Linked DNA regions of Homo sapiens. The protein of the gene in region 1 purifies or fractionates together with the protein of each later gene. This does not show direct contact. Each region holds a gene or a part of one and is shown in the gene's direction. Other genes may lie near its edges.

The links.
Region 2: the proteins of BPNT1 (region 1) and MYO9A purify together in Homo sapiens (affinity purification with mass spectrometry; 2 studies listed by BioGRID and IntAct, with this or other methods). This does not show direct contact.
Region 3: the proteins of BPNT1 (region 1) and CPS1 purify together in Homo sapiens (affinity purification with mass spectrometry; 2 studies listed by BioGRID and IntAct, with this or other methods). This does not show direct contact.

The regions. Positions count from the first base shown.
Region 1 is NC_000001.11:220,065,435-220,073,046, reverse strand, and holds part of BPNT1 (3'(2'),5'-bisphosphate nucleotidase 1), read left to right. Parts: intron 1-89; coding exon 90-197; intron 198-3,614; coding exon 3,615-3,663; intron 3,664-5,653; coding exon 5,654-5,745; intron 5,746-6,929; coding exon of another isoform or gene 6,930-6,974; intron 6,975-7,612. UniProt on the Homo sapiens protein: Phosphatase that converts 3'(2')-phosphoadenosine 5'-phosphate (PAP) to AMP and inositol 1,4-bisphosphate (Ins(1,4)P2) to inositol 4-phosphate. Is also able to hydrolyze adenosine 3'-phosphate 5'-phosphosulfate (PAPS) to adenosine 5'-phosphosulfate (APS).
Region 2 is NC_000015.10:71,898,032-71,905,643, reverse strand, and holds part of MYO9A (unconventional myosin-IXa), read left to right. Parts: intron 1-637; coding exon 638-718; intron 719-1,604; coding exon 1,605-1,715; intron 1,716-2,580; coding exon 2,581-2,703; intron 2,704-4,303; coding exon 4,304-4,453; intron 4,454-5,637; coding exon 5,638-5,957; intron 5,958-6,611; coding exon 6,612-7,612. UniProt on the Homo sapiens protein: Myosins are actin-based motor molecules with ATPase activity. Unconventional myosins serve in intracellular movements. Regulates Rho by stimulating it's GTPase activity in neurons.
Region 3 is NC_000002.12:210,551,918-210,559,717, forward strand, and holds the start of CPS1 (carbamoyl-phosphate synthase [ammonia], mitochondrial isoform b precursor), read left to right. Parts: upstream 1-4,681; 5' UTR 4,682-4,801; coding exon of another isoform or gene 4,802-4,816; coding exon 4,817-4,942; intron 4,943-7,800. UniProt on the Homo sapiens protein: Involved in the urea cycle of ureotelic animals where the enzyme plays an important role in removing excess ammonia from the cell.

The DNA.
Region 1 (7,612 bases):
TGATGCTGCATTTCTTCTGTTAATGAGACAAAGCATACTCTGTAAACACTAAACAGCTTCAGTAACCATTAGGGTTATCTCTGCTTTAGGATCTGCCTTCTGAGGAAGTGGATCAAGAGCTGATTGAAGACAGTCAGTGGGAAGAAATACTGAAGCAACCATGCCCATCGCAGTACAGTGCTATTAAAGAAGAAGATGTATGACCCATATTTATACTCAACTCTCTATTAACCTGGGCTTTTTGCCATAGTAAAGGAAATAATATTTGCATGTAAGATGAAAAATTGGTAGTTATAAAATAGGGGCAACCAGAAACTTGATATCTTTCAGAGCCAACATGGAAGTATCAGGCAACCATATGGATTTAGAGTTCAGTTTCTCATCCTATGGGTTTCCTTTGCACTCTAAAACCGTTATTTAAAATACTTTTAGGGACAGGCATGGTGGCTCACACCTGTAATCCCAGCACTCTGGGAGGCCGAGGTGGTTGGATTGCTTGAGTCTAGGAGTTCGAGACCAGACTCGGCAACATGGTGAAACTCTGTCTCAACAAAAAATACAAAAATTAGCCAGGTATGGTGGTGCACACTTATAGTCTCAGCTACTTGGGAGGTTGAGATGGGAGGATCACCTGAGCCCATGGAGGTTGAGGCTGCAACCAGCACCATCTCTTTTTTTTTTTTCTGAGACGGAGTCTCGCTCTGTCACCAGGCTGGAGTACAGGGCCGCGATCTTGGCTCACCACAACCTCCACCTCCTGGGTTCAGGCGATTCTCCTGCCTCAGCCTCCCAAGTAGCTAGGACTACAGGCGCGCACCACCATGCCCAGCTAATTTTTTTGTATTTTTAGTAGAGATGGGGTTTCACCATGTTGGCCAGAATGGTCTTGATCTCTTGACCTCGTGATCCGCCTACCTCAGCCTCCCAAAGTGCTGGGATTACAGGCTTGAGCCACCTTACCTGGCCCCAGCACCATCTCTTAAAGAGATTATTTTTTCCCCAGTTGAATGGCCCTGGCACACTTGTGAAAAATCAGCAGGCCATAGATGTATAGGTTTCACGCTGGCCATGGTGGCTCACGCCTATAATCCCAGCACTTTGGGAGGCTGAGGCGGGCAGATCACCTGAGGTCGAGAGTTCAAGACCAGCCTGACCAACATGGAGAATCCCCGTCTCTTCTAAAAATACAAAATTAGCTGGGCGTGGTGGCACATGCCTGTAATCCCAGTTACTCAGGAGGCTGAGGCAGGAGAATTGCTTGAACCTGGGAGGCGGAGGTTACAGTGAGCCGAGATTGCGCCATTGCACTCCAGTCTGGGTGACAAGAGCAAAACTTAGTCTCAAAAAGAAGAAAAAAGAAAAGAAATAGATGTATGGGTTTCATTATGGACTCTCAGTTATATTCTATTGGTCTATATGTCTATCCTTATGCCAGTACCACACTTTCTTGCTTTGCATTAAGTTTTGCAATTGGGAAGTGTAAGTTGTCCTACTTTGTTCCTACCTTGTGCAGTTTTACATGTACCTTACAGCCTGGACAGCAGAGTGAGACCCTGTCTCATTAAATAAATAAATAAATACTTTTAGGAAGAAAATCTAATTTGTTATTTAGTAGATATGTAGTAGATTTGCTAGTAAAACATTCATTGGTAATTGGGGATAGAAGGCTATGAAACAGGTTGCTACCTTATATTTTTAGAAGAACATAAATGTCATCCTGCTTGCTTTTTATAGTTGCTTAAGTTAAACCTGTGACTTCAGATAGCCACCATAATGTCTTTAGTTTTCCAATTTTTAATTATTTAAGGCATATTCATTGGAGACTTACTATGAATAAGACACTTTGCTCTGTGGTATGGAGGAAACAAAGAAAATGAGACATGGTGGGGCTGGGCATGGTGGCTCACGCCTGTAATCTCAGCACTTTAGGAGGCCGAGGCAGGCGGATCACGAGGTCAGGAGATCGAGACCAACCTCCGCCTCCCAGGTTCAAGCAATTCTCCTGCCTCAGCCTCCTGAGTAACTGGGATTACAGGCATGTGCCACCACGCCCAGCTAATTTTGTATTTTTAGAAGAGACGGGGATTCTCCATGTTGGTCAGGCTGGTCTTGAACTCTCGACCTCAGGTGATCTGCCCGCCTCAGCCTCCCAAAGTGCTGGGATTATAGGCGTGAGCCACCATGACCAGCGTGAAACCTATACATCTATGGCCTGCTGATTTTTCACAAGTGTGCCAGGGCCATTCAACTGGGGAAAAAATAATCTCTTTAAGAGATGGTGCTGGGGCCAGGTAAGGTGGCTCAAGCCTGTAATCCCAGCACTTTGGGAGGCTGAGGTAGGCGGATCACGAGGTCAAGAGATCAAGACCATTCTGGCCAACATGGTGAAACCCCATCTCTACTAAAAATACAAAAAAATTAGCTGGGCATGGTGGTGCGCGCCTGTAGTCCTAGCTACTTGGGAGGCTGAGGCAGGAGAATCGCCTGAATCCGCTAACACGGTGAAACCCTATCTCTACTAAAAATACAAAAAATTAGCTGGGTGTGGTGGCAGGCGCCTGTAGTCCCAGCTACTTGGGAGGCTGAGGCAGGAGAATGGCATGAACCCGGGAGGCAGAGGTTGCAGTGAGCCGAGATCGCGCCACTGCACTCCAGCCTGGGTGACAGAGTGAGACTCTGTCTCAAAAAAAGCAAAAAAGAAAAGAAAGTGAGACATGGTGTTCTCCATCAGAAACATGCCCTCACTCAGAAATTCACATAATGTTATCATTGTAGTGGTTAAAGGCAGCATATCCTGAATCATATTAAATGTCCTAAACAGAAGGAATTTTCCTTTTAAATCTGCTGCCAGTTTTATTATTCATTTTTCTTTGGATTGTATGGACTGTGTCCTTAAGATAATCAGACTTGTTTTTTTAAAATCAGCACTTATATATAAAAATGAGTAGCAACTGTGCTTGTTCAAAACATTTTTTTGCCACTTTACAAGTTTTTCCTGTACCATGATCTAGAGATCAGTATATTCATTGTGCTTAGTGTTCAAATGACAACAAACTTTTATCAGTTAAGCATTTCATGTTGAAAATCATTTTTTTGTATTTTTTTTTTTTGAGATGGAGTTTTGCTCTTGTCATCCAGGCTGGAGTGCAATGGCACGATCTCTGCTCACTGCTACCTCCGCCTCCTGAGTTCAAGTGATTCTCCTGCCTCAGCCTACTGAGTAGCTGGGATTACAGCCACCCACCACCACGCCCGGCTAATTTTTGTATTTTTAGTAGAGATGGGGTTTCACCACTTTGGCCGGGCTGGTCTCGAACTCCTGACTTCAGGTGATCCACCCGCCTCGGCCTCTCAAAGTGCGGGATTACAGGTGTGAGCCACCGTGCTTGGCCTGAAAATTCTTAAATCAGACTTTTTTCTTATTCAAATGGACTTTTTCCATGATTACAAAAGAATAAGCTTTTTGTACTATCTCAAAACAGATGACATTAATTTAAGCCATCCATAATACAATTTCAAACAGGAAAAAAAGAGTAATTTTAATCTATTTAAATCTATTTTTAGAATTTTGTGTGCTTGATTTAGATATTTTCCTTCTCTCTTTTTAATTTTAGCTCGTGGTCTGGGTTGATCCTCTGGATGGAACCAAGGAATATACCGAAGGTTGATATCTCTTTTGTATTCATATTTGACAGTAGTGGGACAAGGATATGATGTTAGTTGTAAATATTTGATATTTTGTATGTTGTATGGAAAGCTACTATCATGTGTTATGTTTACCCCTAAAGCTATATTTGTGCTCATGGTTATCATACATCGTTGATTGTTAAGACAGGAGAATAAAATTCATCTCCTTCAAATACCACCCCCCACATACTCCACCAGCCCCACACTTCTAATGTCTCCCAGATGAGAATAACATATTAAACCAGTGTTACCAAAATGACTATACTGAACCCAGCTTTATTGGGGTAGAAAAACGATAACGAGTACAACTGTGTAGCTCTTGCTCTGCCACCACCACCATCCCATGCCCTCCCCATTCACTCTCCCCTAATCTGTGAACTGCTTTCACATTTCATAGCCTCACCTTCTAAAGGTGGGTTTTGAAACACAGTACAATATTTCTCCTTATCTAAGATGAGAACAATTAGAGAGCAACAAATTAAAATAAAATTGGCCATATAAATGTAGGAATGAACAAGCTCAGAGCCAGAGTTTTAGGTTTTGTTTTTTCTATTAGACAGTCTTGCTCATTGCCCAGGCTAGAGTGCAGTGGCACCATCTCGGCTCACTGCAACCTCTGCCTCCCAGGTTCAAGCTGTTCTCCTGCCTCACCTCCCAAGTAGCGGGGATTACAGGCACCTGCCACCACGCCCAGCTAATTTTTGTATTTTTAGGAGAGATGGGGTTTCACCATGTTGGTCAGGCTGGTCTTGAACTCCTGACCTCAGGTGATCCACTCACCTGGGCCTCCCAAAGTGCTGGGATTACAGGTGTGAGCCACCGCACCTGGTAGGTTTTAGGTTTTAAGCTTAGAGTTTTATTTTTAAACTTAAGATCTAGGCCAGGCGTGGTGGCTTATGCCTGTAATCCCAGCACTTTGGGAGGCCGAGGTGGGCAGATAATTAGGTCGGAAGTTCAAGACCAGCCTGGCCAACATGGTGAAACACCTTCTCTCCTAAAAATACAAAAATTAGCTGGGCCTGGTGGCACACGTCTGTAATCCCAGCTACTTGTGGGGCTGAGGCAGGAGAATTGCTTGAATCCAGAAGACAGAGGTTGCAGTGAGCTGAGATCATGCCACTGCACTCCAGCCTGGGTGACAGAGCAAGACTCTGTTTCAAAAAAAGAAAATAAGAATAATAATGATGATGATGATGATAAAATTAAATTAAGGTCTACATAAATTTTCTTGTATTGGCTCTCAGGACATGGCTTAAAAAATTTATCATAATTACTAGAAAAAAACTATTTTACTGTTCTTGAATGAGACATCGCTATAATGGGTGAATCACAGTGTGTGTATACATGTGTATGTATGTGTGTGTGCTGAAAACATCTGTAGAACCCATTGTGAAATAAGGAAGCTCTAGACAACTTTAATGTGTATAAAAGCACCTAGAAAGCTTATTTAGGTCTTGTCCCCCACTCTCAGATTTTGATTCACTAGTTCTGGGAAGGAGCCTGAGAAGATCTGTATTATAAAAAGTACATCAGTTAATTCTAATGCTGCTTGATAGTCCTTGGGCCTCCCTTTGAGAAACTCTGTTTTAAAGGCTTGAAATACAAGTCTAGAGTGTAATCCAGGAATATAAAGTGATTCGGCAGGTAAGGATGAGTTGGATGATGGTGGAAGAGGCACAGAGGAATCTGATGATGATGGCTGCAAAATTATGGCTGCTTTATTTAGTTGGTTTACACATTGTACTAATGAGACCATGATAGCCAATTCAATTAAGTGGCCATAGATCCTATGGCTGTTTCTGGCCAGCTTATCATTTATGCCTTTCACTATAAATAGGATTGATCACGGATGAATCATTGCAAATTCCATACCTTAACTGCAAAACTAACTTGGAGCAATTGATGTAGTAATGATGAGTCATAATATGAGCAAGTTATATAACTGATATTTATTTCTTCTTTGCAGGTCTTCTTGACAATGTAACAGTTCTTATTGGAATTGCTTATGAAGGAAAAGCCATAGCAGGAGTTATTAACCAGCCATATTACAACTATGAGGTATTACTATAAATGATACAAAGTAATTTCATTAGATAAATAATTATAGTGTTATCTGATTCTTTATGTTACCTAAGCAAGTGGTTTTTAGCTTGGTTGCATATGCAATCATCTGGGGAACTTTTCATTTTTTAAATTTTATTTATTTATTTATTTATTTTTAACTTTTTTTTTAGCTATGCTATTAACTGATGAGAAACCTTTAAAAATACGGATTCCCAGGCCATACCCCAGACCTACTGAATCAAAATCGCTGGGGGCATTGGTACTGGGTATGTATATATATGCATGTGTATGTACACAGACCCACTAAATGCATTATATATTTTTTAATTTATTCCTTATGATTCAAATATAAATGTTGAGAGAATTACTGATAGGGTTCTTGATTAGCTTGGGCATCAAGACACCTGATTTATGATTGGTTCCTGAAGCACATTCAAGAAATGAACCATTTCAACTAAGAAAAGATGCTAGGCCTGTTGTTTTCCAGGTAACGCTGTGTAGCGCCTAAGTTACAGTCAGTGTTGGTAACAGAACGTACTATGCTCTTGCATTCTTTTTTCTTGTCTCTTCTAATCTGCTTTGATTTTCTATTATACATCAGATAAATTGCCTTCCATAGAAGCAAGGGACTAGTGTAATTTCAAAGCAAGAATTTACCATTAAATTGCATTAAATTGTATAGGAAATTGTTGAGATAAAGTAGTTAAGGTATTTATATTAATGTGACCTTGATAGAACTTTAGAGAAACAAAGTAATCAGAGTGGGCAATACTACTTCTGAATTTCCACTCTGAGTTAAAAGCAAGGTTAAGCTTTATTTCTAATATAAATTTGTTTTTTCCTGCTGTTTGTATGATTATAAATTATATTAAGAATCGTGTTTCTTAGGATTTACCAAAAGAGTTATATGTTATTGAGAAAGTCTCTGGGGTTAAATTGCTTGTGTCTATTAATTCTTTAAATATGATTTTAATGTTGATACTGTTATATACAGACATAAGTTTGTGGTTTTTATGTAAACTTTAAGTTAATACTATTACTTTCAAAAGGGGCATTTAATTCATATAAAGCATTGTAATGCACGGTACCTTTCATCAAGAAAAAATCTAAGTGCTTAGGAGTTAATAATTTTCACCACTTCTTTCTGAGATTAGAAAAATTGTATTCATTTTCCACAGAACAATGAAAAACAGCAGTTAAGGGAACACAGGAATGAAGCAAAGGTGAGAAAAATAGCTAGGGTTTTGGCTCCACTAGTAGGTAGAAAAGAAGCAGGCAACTTGTGGTACCCCAGGTGGTCATTGTACATCCCACATACCAGTTCATTTTCTCCAGTTCTGCTTCTCTTCATTACCTCTCTCTGTACCACTTCCCTTCTGGACACTCTGTTTATCCTTTCTCTTGCTTCTCTTGCTTATGCCTTAAAATTCATTACCACAAATGGAAGTAGAAAAGTTGCTCAGCTGTGTTGGTGGTATTCAGGCTAAAGATTCAATTTTAAATAATAATCATCATCACCATAATAGCTAAAATTTATTAAGAGTTTACTGTATGCTGCCAGGTTCAAGGGTTTCAAATGTATCCTTTCATTGAATACTAACCACAGCCCTTTAAATAAACTATTATCCCCATTTTAAAGAGGAAACTGAGGCAATTAACTTTCCTGTGGTCACCCAGCTGGTAAATGGCAGAACTGAGATTCAAACTCAAATCCAAACCTTGCTACTGTATTACTTTATATTGCCCTCCTGAGCCAGAGAAAAGACTTAGCAATTCAAACTTTATTATTGCTTCCAACATATACTGAAACTAGTAGACACTTAAAGGAAATAGCATGAAGAAACTCAGTCTATCTTCATAC
Region 2 (7,612 bases), on another chromosome or scaffold:
GGCTAATTTTTGTATTTTTTAGTAGAGATGGGGTTTCACCATGTTGGCCAGGCTGGTCTCAAACTTCTGACCTCAGGTGATCCTGCCCTCCTTGGCCCTCCAAAATGCTGGGATTATAGGCGTGAGCCACCATGCCTGGGCTGAGCAAATCAAAAAGTTGATAAATTTCTAGCCACTAATCAGGAAGAAAGAGAGAATGTGCAAATTACCATTATCAGGAATAAAAAAAGGGATATCATTACATACTTTGTAGACATTTAAAGTAAAGCAAGGGCTTACTACCTTACTGGATACCCTCCTGAATCATTTTAAAAGTTGTAGGATACATGAGTTTGAATAAAATTGTTTGATGAAATGTGAAGAAAAGTGAAAAAAATTCTATATTTGATTGTTCTGAAAACATCTGCAATATTTACTATTTCCAGGCTATCTGCTTTAATATTAAACTACCATCTTTATCCTTAATTATCCATAATTTAACCAGTATGAGAATATACACAATGTGCTTTTCAAAAACCTCTTTCTATGTGTACCTCTACTTTTTGAATGTTTTGCCAGCATGTTGATTATAGTTATAAATTATTTGTTAATAGTTTGGAATGGAAGAGTATGATAATTATATTGCTTTCTGTTGCAGGCATCATTAAGCAAGCTAATGGAAACACTTGGTCAAGCAGAACCATATTTTGTAAAATGCATTCGCTCTAATGCTGAAAAGGTAAAAATGTCCTATAAATGAGAGCACATATCTCAGCTTACTTCAAACTGAGCTTTAAATACTTTTAAGCAGAATAAGTGGAGGGGAAGCACTAACTATAATATTTATAAGGAAAATAGTATGTTATAAACACTTTAAATGGATTTTTCCACACTTCCCTGCCTGTAAGGTGTTTATTTGGATTTGATTTAGCATCACCCAGAATTTGAGAAGCAAATACCTCTTGAAGTCCTGTCAGAAAAGAATTTTCTTTTTTGTTTTTGTTTTTGTTTTGAGGCAGAGTCTCACTGTGTCACCTAGGCTGGAGTGCAGTGGCATGATCTCAGCTCACTGTAATCTCCGCCTCCTGGTTTCAAGCAGTTCTCCTGCCTCAGCCTCCTGAGTAGCTGGGACTACAGGTGTGCACCACCACGCCCGGCTAATTTTTGTATTTTTAGTAGAGACAAGGATTTGCCATGTTGGCCAGGCTGGTCTTGAACTCCTGACCTCAGGTGATCAGCCCACCTTGGCCTCCCAAAGTGCTAGGATTATAGGCGTGAGCCACTACACCCAGTTGTAGGTTATCTTGTTACAGATTTTGTAGTGATTGGACTATGTGGCCTCTGTGGGTGACTACATTCTTTTTGAGCCTTTAAGGTCCTCTCTCTTCACAACCAGAGAAGCCTGGAAGCTTGGTTTCTCTCTTTTCCCTAGGGTTGGGCAGTCAGAACTTTTCTGAAGCTACCAGCTGAGAGGTGAGCTTGCCTTAATATACTTAGTTACTGTATATGTTAACCAGACAACCTCCAGTCAATCTCTAGATACTCAACAGTTAGTCATGCTTATAAACAGATAATTAATTTGGAGATCTACTGTTCTGGGTTAATCTTTTTTCCATTTGCTTTAGCTGCCCTTAAGGTTCAGTGATGTCTTGGTACTTAGACAGCTTCGATACACCGGGATGCTGGAAACAGTTCGAATTCGCCAATCAGGATACAGCTCCAAATATTCTTTCCAGGTTCTGTTTTTATAGTGATATTTACATATTTAGACACATCAAGTAAATGATTCCCACATATCTTGCTTATTATTTCTTTGGGGCTTACTTATTTTCCTTAATTCTTCCTTTCCATTTCACGTTTTGTATACGGAATTGAAAAGGGATAGACAGTATTTACTTTGATTGAATGGCAGCAATCTCATTAAGCTTATTGTAATAGAATCCAGTACTTGGCTATTCTCATTTGCTCGGAATGTTTGCTAATACTAAATTTACTCCTGATATAACAATTCTTTGCACTGACCTCTCCAGTAACTGAAATAGTTCAATGAGAATTATCTAGTGAAAAGATTCTATTTGGTTTTCCCTAAAGTTTTCTCAGCAGGATTTTCTTTCATAGTAAGCTGCCAGCAAGGCTCACAGCTACTCGTATCAGCAATTGCTGCTATGGGTATGGAAACTATATTGAAGCTGTTCAGCAACTGAGCAAGTCTTTGCTGTTACTGGGACGGAAAGCCTCATTCTCAGTGATACCCTGTCCCCATCCTGCCACGTTTGCTTTTTTTTTCCTGATAGAAATTTTAGGGTCTTGTTAAATACCCTTTTCTTTGGTCTTTTATAAAGCTTTCTCAAAAGGGATAATTAGCCTCTGCCTTTTTTTTCTCTCATTCCCTTTTGATGTCATGATATGTAGAACCCAATATCTTTCTCCACCTCCTATGTTTTCCGAATTAACCTTTTATCATATCTTAAATTAACATGCACGTCTTGGTTTCACCCTGTTTAAAAGAAAGAGAAAAGATTAATAGAATGATAATTAGTTTAAGGTCTTGTTTACATACACTGTTTTCTGATTTTACAATATTTTTAAATTATTTTTCAGGATTTTGTGAGCCACTTCCATGTACTTCTTCCCCGAAATATTATTCCATCCAAATTTAACATTCAGGATTTCTTCAGGAAAATAAATCTTAATCCAGATAATTATCAAGTTGGAAAAACCATGGTAAATATAATCTGTATAGCTCTGGTCAAAATTGAGTGCATTTATTTAAAAAATAATAATTTTTGCCTATGAGATTGTTTATTAAAAAGATAGTGAATCAGATATCAGAAGACAATTGGTTAGGCCCAGGTTTTTATTTAATTATGTAGTCAATATTAATCACAGAGCTCTGGCCAGTGCTCTAGTTCTGACTATAATTTTAACTGCCTAAAAATCATCTCTCCATAGATACTCTACTGTAATCTCCAAGCCAGCTTGCCCAAGGTGACCATATCCAGATTCATCTGTTCTTAAATTTATCAAATACTTTCTTTCTCTGTCACCCTTTTTCCAGTTTCTCAGTCTAGAAACCATAATTGTCTTTGGCATACCGTTCACTTTAATCCTTTCACAAAGTTTTAGGGATTTTTTTTCCTTTTACAAAGAGATTCTTACATCGCTTTCTGTTTCTCCATTACTACTGCTTCCATTTTATTTTTATTCCTTATCTCTTCTCATCTACATTGCTTATACAGTGAACAGCTTACTTATCTGATTCTAGTATATTTGTCATTCCATTTAATTTATTCTACTCATAATATTAAAATTATTATCTTAATATACTTAGTTCTTTATGTCTGCCTCCTGCTTGATAATAACCTCCTGATAACCTCCTCATTAAATCCAAACATCTTTCTCTTTTTTGAGAACCTTCATATTGTGGCTTCACATTACTTAATATCTTTTTTATGGAGATTAATTGTCCCGTTGTCTCCTGTGCATGCCTTTATTATTATTTTCAACTCTCTGTGTTACTCAGGTGGGATCTTTTGTCTCTGGCCCTTATTAGTTTACCATCTTCCTCTTCGGGTATATAATATCTACCTGCTCTCAAATGAGAGGTATAATTCCTGTTTCTAAAGGGATATGTCTCCTTCACCTTTGCAGCCTCACAAACCCTAAACATTAGTGGAATGAAGGAGTAAATAAAATAAACTTATTAATAACTTTGGACAGTGAGAAGCTTTTAATGCACGCTGGATTTCAAAAAGACTGTTATCATTGGTTTATTCATTATATGATTCAAGCTTCAAGATCTATGGTTTTCAACTTTTTTCCCCATCCCAACACGCTTGAAAAATATGACTTATTACCAGTAATACATTTACTCATAGCAGTGGTTTCCCCAATGGACTAATGTATCATAATCTCTGGCACTGGAATTTTGATATTCTTGCTCACCTTGTCATTTTTCCCTCCCTTCCTCCCTTCCTTACCTTCCTTTTTTTGTCTTTTTTTTTTTTGGAGACCAGGTCTCTCTATTTTGCCGTAGAACTGGAACTCCTGGGCTTCAGCAAACTTCCTGTTTCAGCCTTCTCAGTAGTTAGGAGTATAGGCATGTAGCACCACACCCAGCTCACCTTCCGTATTCTACTATCTCCATTTCAATTTGAGAATGACTACTTTGGATAAATCTGTAGGAATATTTATCAGTACTTCATTTACATGCCTGCCACTGTGTTTGTTCTTCTCTAAAAGCTTATCACAGAAAGGATGATTCATGAAATAAATTTCTCATTTCTTCTTAAGCTGCATTCCTCATCTTTCTTCCTTTTGGTAGGTCTTTCTAAAGGAGCAGGAACGACAGCACTTACAAGATCTGCTTCACCAAGAGGTGCTCCGCAGAATCATATTGTTGCAGCGATGGTTCAGGGTCTTGCTGTGTAGGCAGCATTTCCTCCATCTGAGACAAGCATCTGTTATTATCCAGGTGAGAAGCAAAGGATTCTTTGCATGAGATTGACTAGTTTATTTGGCCTTTGTTTAGTAACCAGAACCTTTTTACTGTAAAACATTTTCAGTAATAATGTGAACTTCAGAAATGAGAATATGTCGTACCCAATTTTGAAGTGCTCATAACACCCAACAGATTATCTGGCATATAATAGACTATTAATAAATATTGATTCCATTGAATTTAAATTAAATTGAATTTGTAGTTATAATGTCTTGTGAGATCTGTGTAGGGGCTAAGGAGTTACCTAATATTTGTTGACATAGTTGTTTTTATTTAATAGTTTTTGGAGTGATGTTTGAGAGTTGTATATATACCGTTGGTTTTAGACACTCATTTTGGATGATAGGTACCTTATTTTACATTTTATTTGTTTTATTAACTCCCTCATTGATTTATATCATTTCCATAAGATCTTTTCCATTTGTGCAAGAAAATCTTTAGTATCTTCATCTTTGGAATGTGTGTCAGGATTACCTTAAACCCATTAGTGTTATTTAGGAAAATTGTAACAAAAGAATATAATATGTTAAAGTTACTAATAATTTGAAGGACATGAAATCATCCAAAAATTTTAAATTAGGTTCTGTAATTAACTTCTTCAAGGTTATATTATTTAAAATAGCTGTTTTAGCCAAACATATCTGGAAGAGAAAACTTTTTTCTATTTATCTTTTTCAGGTACACTTTCTGCTTTTGTAGAAAACTAGTTTTTTTATTTTTATTTTTTTGAGACAGAGTCTCACTCTGTCACCCAGGCTGGAGTGCAGTGGCGTGAATTCTGCTCACTGCAAGCTCCAGCTCCCAGGTTCACGCCATTCTCCTGCCTCAGCCTCCTGAGTAGCTGGGACTATAGGCACCCACCACCACGCCCAGCTAATTTTTTTTGTATTTTTAGTAGAGACGGGGTTTCACCATGTTAGCCAGGTTGGTCTCTATCTCCTGACCTCATGATCTGCCTGCCTTAGCCTCCAAAAGTGCTGGGATTACAGGCATGAGCCACCGCACCTGGCCAGAAAACTTATTTTTAATCACCAAGAATTTAGCTGCATAGCCACTTAACCTGTAATTATGACATAAGAAATTTATTCTCTTTTTTTCCTGTGAAAATGCAGTGTAAGATATGACAACCAGTTTCTGTTATTTTGTCTTCCCCATAGAGATTCTGGAGGAATTACCTAAATCAGAAGCAAGTCAGAGATGCAGCTGTGCAGAAGGATGCTTTTGTTATGGCTAGTGCAGCTGCTCTTCTCCAAGCTTCCTGGCGTGCTCACTTAGAGAGGCAGCGGTACTTGGAGTTACGGGCTGCAGCCATCGTTATCCAGCAGAAATGGAGAGATTACTATAGGCGCAGGCACATGGCTGCTATTTGCATACAAGCAAGATGGAAAGCCTACAGGGAAAGTAAAAGGTACCAAGAACAAAGGAAAAAAATTATCCTTTTGCAATCAACATGTAGAGGATTCAGAGCAAGACAAAGGTAATCTCTATTACTATAATAATTGCTTTTTTTCTTCTTCCCAAGTACTTTGTTTATACCTCTGCATTAACACTTGTCTAATTTGTATTAGAATTGGTTGTATACAATTTGTCTTTTCCACTATACTGTGATACCGATTTTAACCCACATTGTATTGTCTATAATGGAAGTTAAATAAGGTTTTATTGAATTAAATTGGATTGAAAATCTACATGGTCTGTGATCATAACTGCTAAGAATTAACTTCTACATTAGGCTGAATCTTATAAAATTGGCAATATTCAACTGTTGTTACTTTCAGAAACTTTAATTTCACACTTAAATTAAAATTTCACTTTAATTTCACACTTAAAATTTCACTTTAATTTGAGGTTTACTTTAAAATAAAGGCATTATTAAAATGAGAGCTTTACTTCTGAATTAGTTTACATTTTGACTGAAATGCCTAGGTAGAAGTAATACACTTAATGAAATATCATCTGACTCATGGAAATAGGAAAATTATGAAATGTGCATTCAAGTTAGTTTAAGAAGAACTTAGGTATTATAAAAAGATTTTACAACTCTGCATTTTTTCTTAAATTCTCAGGAAATATGTTATTTTCAGTGGTAACTAAGATATTTCTATAACCCATTTTGTCTGTTTTTATATAGATTTAAAGCTTTAAAAGAACAAAGGCTAAGAGAAACAAAGCCAGAAGTTGGATTGGTGAATATTAAGGGATATGGATCTCTGGAAATTCAGGGTTCAGACCCTTCAGGATGGGAGGATTGTTCTTTTGACAACAGAATAAAAGCCATAGAGGAATGTAAATCTGTAATAGAGAGTAATCGAATTAGCCGTGAAAGTTCAGTGGACTGCTTGAAGGAGTCACCAAACAAGCAGCAGGAGAGAGCCCAAAGCCAGAGTGGTGTGGACTTGCAGGAAGATGTGCTTGTAAGAGAGAGACCCAGATCCTTGGAGGATCTCCATCAGAAAAAAGTAGGCCGGGCTAAGAGAGAAAGTAGGAGAATGAGAGAACTAGAGCAAGCTATATTTAGCTTAGAATTGCTGAAAGTTCGTTCTCTTGGTGGTATTTCTCCTTCAGAGGATCGCAGATGGTCTACAGAATTGGTGCCTGAAGGCCTTCAGTCTCCACGGGGTACACCTGATAGTGAGAGCTCTCAAGGAAGCTTGGAACTTCTGAGCTATGAGGAAAGCCAAAAGAGCAAACTAGAGTCTGTCATTTCAGATGAAGGAGACTTGCAGTTTCCATCACCTAAGATATCCAGCAGTCCAAAATTTGATTCACGGGACAATGCCCTCAGTGCCTCAAATGAGACTAGCAGTGCAGAGCATTTGAAGGATGGAACTATGAAGGAAATGGTGGTCTGCAGTTCTGAGTCTATTACCTGTAAACCACAGCTGAAAGACTCCTTCATTTCAAATAGTCTACCTACTTTTTTTTATATCCCCCAACAAGACCCACTGAAAACAAATTCCCAACTAGACACAAGTATCCAAAGAAACAAACTATTGGAAAATGAAGACACAGCGGGGGAAGCTCTTACTTTGGATATCAACAGGGAAACTAGAAGGTATCACTGCTCAGGAAAAGATCAGATTGTTCCTTCTTTGAATACAGAGTCTTCTAATCCTGTGCTTAAGAAGTTAG
Region 3 (7,800 bases), on another chromosome or scaffold:
GCCAAACTTTGAGGAATCCTCCTACCAGCTTGTCCTAGTTTCTGTGATAGGAGAAAATGTGTGCCTTTTACATGGGTACAATCCACACCACTTTCCCTCAGAGATGCCTTCTTCATCCATATCTTTAATTGTGACCGTGTTCCTTGTTATGATACTAAGGCTAATAAAAATCATAGAACTGAACCCAATTACTTCTACCTTTTATATTCTATTTTCACACATTTCTGGTCAAACACAAAACAGTAGAACTTTCTTCAGGGAGTTATTGCACCTCCTTTTACTCTGAATTTGTTTGCTCTCCAGTCATACCTTACTCCTTGCTTTAATGTATCTCTTCAAAAATAGACTTTATAGAATTATTGATTGCCAGGTTTTTTTTTTCATGACTCCTAAGCATCCTTATTTCCTCTCATGCTTAACTGATGTAATTTTATTTGTTCCTGCTTAAATAATCATCACTGATCAGGCAGGAATTAAGCACACAGCAATCCATTCATTCAGTCATTTTTCCAGAAGCATCTCTTGCATGCTTGCTATGTTAGAGACTTTTTGATAGATGCACCAACTTCTTAGAGTTGTTTCTGATTCATTACTTAGGAACATTTCAAGAGGGCAGTTGGAAGTCTCTGTACCTTCAAAGGAATTACTAACACCCTTATTTTCTCTTCATTCCAAAACCTAAGACCTTTATTCTCTAAGACATCCTGTTCTCATTTTTTTTTTCAATCTGTAGCAGGTCTTCCCTTGCTTATGTCAGTGGACTGTTTAAATGAAGAGTGGACTGTTTGAGAAGTGGACTGTTTAAATCAGTATAGACACAGGCTGTCAGTGTTTCTTTATGTTTCCTTTAAAGACATTTTCGTAATGATTAATATAAATGAGTTAATGGAAACAAAAATGTAAACAGTAGTTGATAAAAGAATAGTATCAATTAAAAACATACTGTGAAGTATTCAACTTCACCAGTGATTTAAAATAGAAATGAAAGCAAAATAATATTTTCTACAGCGGAGCAAATAAAATGAAAGATAATACATAATGTTGGTGAGGACATTTTTAAAGGGACACCCATATATTGCACTGGTATGTAGGTGAGTACACTCTCTTTGGAGAGAAATTTGTAAATAGTAATCAAATATGGCAATATTGACATGCATTGTAGCAGCAATGAAAATGGAATATTTTGTAATCATTTAAAGTAATGTTTTAAAAGAACTTTGTAATAACATCAAAATACATTTAACATAATATTGCCTCCAAAAAGCATTATGCAAGTCAATGGCAATTTTCAAAACTATGTTCTGAGCATTGACATAAATGCTAGAAGATAATACTTTAGTGTTAACAGAGATTATGTTTGTGTGGTGGGTTATTATCTATTATTCTGTATTTCCACATTTCTTTAAATATCAAATGAAAGTGAATACAACCTAGTACTTGACATTTTAACATTTTCAATACCAGATATGTCAATAAGGAATTCATAAAATAAAGTGCCCTGAGGGATTTCACAGGCTAAATGCTTCTATTTTTTAAAATGTATTAATAGAAAAGAAGACTAAATCTAAAAAAAAAAATTCATTTTATCAGAGAGTGACTCATAAGTTTAGAAAACCTTTGATGACCTGGCTCACAAAGAATGTACTTCCAAGTACACAGGGTCCCCAGCCTGATGTGTGTGCCTGCATTCATGCCTGTCACTCTGCTCAGCTGCGTGCAGACAGCTTATATGAAGGAGGACTGTGTACATGTGGTCAGAGAAGAAAAAAATGCTTATTTTTTAAAATGTTTTGAAAAATAATCTGTCCTAAAAGTGTAACATTTCCACTAAATTTTTTCATGTCTGACTTTAACATTCCCTACCAACCAACTCTTATAGCCTCAACTCCTTTGATCTATCCTAATGTAAACTCCCTCACTAATGTGTAATATATTTTTTTCCAGTTTGGTTATAGATTTCAGTCTAGCCTGAACACTCAAGTATGAAACTAGCCACTATTTTATTTATTGGCTGTTCCAACCTCCATTGTGGAATTATAATTGATGGATTTTCCAAGTCTCTAATTCAGAATATTTAATCAAATTTTCCAAAATTTCTGCCTTCTCCTCCTTCATTCTGATGACTAAAGACATGGACCATAAAATATATATACATATATACATACATATGTATATGTATGTATATACACATATATATATGTATGTATATATACATACATATATATATGTATATATACACACACATATACATATGTATGTATATATACACACACACATATATATATGTATGTATATATATACACACACATATATATATGTATGTATATATATACACACACATATATATATGTATGTATATATATACACACACACACCGTAGTTTGCAAGTCTGCATCTGGGACCCTTTACTGATAAAAATGAAAGCCCATTAAAACTCTCATGCCCACATTTCTCTCTAGACTTTAGAGTAGGAGAATTCTATCCTAGAATTGTTGATTGTTGACATTTCTATGGAAAAACATGTTTAATTCATCATGCTTTGTAGTCAACTGCTATAAATGGTGATGAAGTCTTTTCCTTGGTCAAGCTCTGGACTCCTCAGTACTTCCACTGTCATATTTGATTAAAACATAAGTGATGAAGGGAGGAAATATATTATAGTATTCATTGCATGGGTACCTTAGGGTAATGGGACTATGACTGATTTAAATTTATTTTGCATCCTAAAAAGTTTCCATTAGTGGGTGCAGCACACCAGCATGGCACATGTATACATATGTAACTAACCTGCACAATGTGCACATGTACCCTAAAACTTAAAGTATAATAATAAAAGAAAAAAAAACTTAAAAAGAAAAGTTTCCATAATGAGGATTGAGTTTATATCGTTTTCTTAATTAAGGAAAGACAACCCTCACTACACACACACACACACACACACACACACACATAAAAAGACAAGAGGTGAGATCAAGGCGTAAACTAGTATTGGACTAAGCCAGTAAGTACTGCTTCTCAGTCCTCAGTTCTCTAGGTTGGGAGTTTTCCTTTTGCTATTTTCATTCTCCTCCAATTCATTTTTCAATGATCTTCAACACAAATTTCGCCTTTATTTCTTGTTCAAAATACTTCCATGACTATTATGAATACTATTTATGGATGAAGGCTGAACATTTTAAGGCATACTAAGTCTCCCATGATATGGTACCTTTTCATTTTCCCATTCTATACCCTGCATCTAGGCTTTTAAAAAATATACCACATGACTTCATGCCTCTAGGCTATTGCTCATGCCACGGCATCCCTTCTGGGTTTTTTCCCCTCTTTATCTACTTGGTGAATTTGCATCCTTCAGTATAACACAGCTCAACATAATTCTATGCTTAAACTTTACTGAAAATGCACAAGGAACTTGATCTTTCTTTCTTATTTTCCCCATTTTATTTATTTTCCCATTGCATTTGGGCAACTTTCATGGCACCAGTTATTTTATTAATTATTTGTATAAACTAGTATGAGCCTATTTTGTTTAGCTTTCTATCACCAGGAGCCATGAAGCACTTTGAAATCAAATACTGTTTGTACTTGAATATATTAAGTAAGCGTGAGGACTTAAATTAAACTTTGTTCCTCTTTAAAAAAATCCTTACCCCAACTCTAGCACTGATTCTATGTTATTGAAGCTTACAATCTTTATGTCATTTTCTGTCATCTTTTCTGTTATGAGAAGACCTAGGTATGAGTCTATTGCCTTTATTCCTTGGCCTTCTTTGCAAGGGTATCAAAGAACACTGCTGCAGTACTTCCTGTTCTACATAGTCATGTGACTTAAGCAAGAGCATCTGCCAGCCAGTGAGGCCCCTTGAGAGCCTGGTTAAACATGGGACTGAAGGGTTAAGTGAATCACTTTTTATTCATGTTGAAATATGAATGCTGAAGTTTGGAAAATTTTATATATAACATTTTAATAACTAAAAAAACTTGACTTAGGAATAGTGCTTATATTAAAATCAGTGTTTGTCATTGTTTCATGAAGTTTTTACAAATCTAAGAGGCTTAAGAGGGATATAATAGTCCACTTTGCTTTAGTTGTGTTTTACTTGATATTACTGATTGCTTTAACTTTGAAACACAGAACAATGCTATAGTAAGAATGTAGTATACTACTCTATTAACCCAAAACATAATATAGATAGGTTTATTGTATATTTGTGGAGAAAAGTTTATTCTAACGTTCTTTTTACAAATAGTAAAAATGCTATTTGTAGGATGCTCTGATTTTTACTTTTTGTAAAAAGAACATTGTCTTTTTACCCCAACAGAAAATGGCAAGCGTTCAGCTTTCTTTGGGAATCCAAAATCTCTTATGAGGCATATTAGGTATCACATGTGACATAAGCAAAAGCCTGTGATCCTTAGCATGTTGGAAAGTTGCTACTCTTTAGGATAAGGTTGTCCATGATGTCTAGGTCATTCCATTCAGCTGCATAAACAATTCCTTTGATGGATGGCTGGTTTTCTACAACCCCAGCATTATTTTAGCAGGAGAAGGTAGTATTTGATGTGTTGCAATTTGTGTTACATGCCCATGGAACATCTCTGGACATTACCTCAGGAGGAGGGGTTAAGAGAAGGAGGAGCTGTGGCTGAAGACATTTAATGGCAGAATGAATGGAAATTCAAAGATCGCTGTGCAGTCAGCCTTAAACACTGACTGCACCCCTCCCAGATTTCTTTTACATTAACTAAAAAGTCTTATCACACAATCTCATAAAATTTATGTAATTTCATTTAATTTTAGCCACAAATCATCAAAATGACGAGGATTTTGACAGCTTTCAAAGTGGTGAGGACACTGAAGACTGGTTTTGGCTTTACCAATGTGACTGCACACCAAAAATGGAAATTTTCAAGACCTGGCATCAGGCTCCTTTCTGTCAAGGTAATACCCATATTGATTGTTTCTGATAAAATACTATGGGGTATAGTTTAGCAGTGAAGCAAAGGTGTCCCTTACAAGGCAAATACAGTTTTGAATGTAGCTCTGAAGTACTAATGTATTAATGTTTCCTTTACTGTGGAACCTACTGACTTAGCAAATGCTAATTTTTATCTTATCTGAGTAACATGACAGTAATTTTTACCCAACATAAAGAATGATGACAATTCTTGTGAACATGTAAAATGTAAGTACACTGCTTGAAAAAGAAACATCTTTTCTTTCATAGATAGCTTTCTGTGACTAGATACTATTGCTTACAGTTTGGATTTAAAAAATGGAGCTGCTTATATGTGTGTGAGCCACATTATGGTACACAGTGTGTTAAGGTCTGTTCTATAAATAGGGCTTACTGAAAAGTTCTCTTTTGAAATATCATTTAAACATTTTAAAAACATAATTAGAAAATATGTGTTTTTGAGATTTGCAGGTCATCATGTAGACACTGCTTTAGCTTTTTCCTTTTCCTTCTGGCTGTTTTTTTGGGCAGGCTAAACTTATTATTTTCATTTTGTAGAGTAATACATAGAGGCAGATAGCAGCTGATAATTCTGTCCCTCCACAGGTATCTATAATTGAGAGGGCAAGCCCAGGAAAGAAACATTAATTGCCCTTCTTCCTGCCCCCCAGCATTGAATTATGAAATTCCTGTAGGAACCTCTGCTCCTTCCTGCAACTTTATGAAGACGTTCATTATCAGAGAAGCCTGAAGTTACTCCATAGGAACTTTGCCAATGAAAATAATCTTTAGTGACTATAAGTTTAAGTAATTATATTAGCTTTAGATATATTGCTTCTTTAGCAGCAAAAGCTGTAAAATTTGAAATAGAAAAAACAAAAGAAAACCTCTGTCTGTTGATGTGAAAATGGGAACTCACAGTTTGGAGTGTTCTGCTTATACTTTGCATGCTCATTGAGTTGACTAAGCTTCTATTGTTTCAGTTGCTCAAGTCAGGATTCAGTGGGGTTTTGGTCCTGACACCTGCAAGGCCAAGGAATATTCATAGATTCCTGTGGCTGCCAGGGATAGGGATGGGAAAGGAATGGGAGTAAAAGAAAAGGAAGAGAGATGGAGACAGGGGGAGGGGAAGGGGAGAAGTGTGAGGGATGGGAGGGAGAGAGAGAGAGAAAGAGAGAGAAACTAGCTCAAGATCCCAGGAGAAAAGAGGAAATACATATAGTAGCCTTAGTGGTGTGTTAACAACTTCAGCCTTTAACATTGAGAAGATTCTAACAAGAGTATAGGAAATTACCATTTTAAATTAAGAAAACCAGAAAGGAAAATGTCTTTTATGTTGTTACATATTCCAATGTATCCAATTTTACTCTTTTTAAATGGACATCATGTTTTAAAGATAGTTAAAATCATTAGGATGTAGTTACATAATGGCCATAAAGGGCACTGGGAGCAGTCACTAAAGGTTAGTGGCATTATGTCTAGTTATATATATTTTCTTGAATTTAGCTTAATTATAGCAAAAGAATGGGAAAGGAGAATATTCTAAACTAACATCAAAGACATTGTAACTAGATGTAAACTATGAGAATTTATTGTTAGTAATACCTCAAGGTACTCATGTATCAGTTCAGAGAAAATCAATAGTAATGAAAGTTATCCCCTATGATTATATGTGCCATCTAATACTTCAAAGTTGGGTGACTTGGAATATCTTCTTCTCACTCTGTGAGAAGGTAGGTATGTAGGTAAGGATAGGTGCATCTTCATCAGACCCCAGAAACCGCGAAATTGAGTACTTACTTAAAATGGCACAGATATGATTGAAATTAGAATCCAATTCTCCAAGATCACAATAAGTGCTCCATACAACCACCACCACAATCACAACCACGACAAAATGGTCTAATTATGTGGATGGATTACTGTGAAAGCAGTTCTAGCTCATGGTGACAGATCTGTTTCAAGGGTCTGTCACAGTGCACAGCTAAGAATGACAAATTTGTAGGAGCACTAAGCCATCATTTCATGGTGTAAAAGCCATTACTCACACTCAATCATTACTGGCCAGAGTTTTGGAGGAATGCCAAGCACAAAAAATAGAAGTTCTTGAACTTCACAATAGTGAATTAAAATTCCATAGAACAGCCCAAGGGGACTTGTGTTATTATTCAGTTATTGTGAAATAGTCCTCTATCTACTTTTCTTCCTGCCTTCACTTTAAAAACTCAACTGTCTTAGAAAAATATATCCAAATTTACTATTTTTAGATGGACATCATATTTTAAAGATAGTTAAAATCATTAGGATGTAGTTACATAATGGTCAGTGAAGGGCACTGAGAACAGTCACTTTAAAGGTTAGTAGCATTATGTCCAGTTATAGATGGTAAATGGATTGGGAAAGACACCCTGTAGTCACATCTATAATCATTGCCCTGTAAATTGGGTTGCTTTTTCGACATATTTAGAGGTTTGCTTTTCCTCTCTCTTTGATGACAGAGACGGTGGGTTTGACGACAGCAATGACGCACTTATAATTTTATGTGGCCCTTCCCTGGGTATTTGTCAGCGGCTAATATTTATAGAGTGCTTTGCCAATCGGCACAGTTGTATTTTACTTACAGGAAAGAGGAAAGAATTTCAAGGTGCTCTATATTTTAAAGAAAGTTGATATCAAGGGTATAAATGATCAACAACCATAAAATACTAAATACTAAAAAGTTTTAGATACCATAATCTTTTTCCATTAGTACTGAAAATGTTCAGCACTCATTATTACATTCAGCAGGCTGTAACAGTGTAATAGTGGGATATACTCTGGATTGGGCACAAAAAGATCTGGA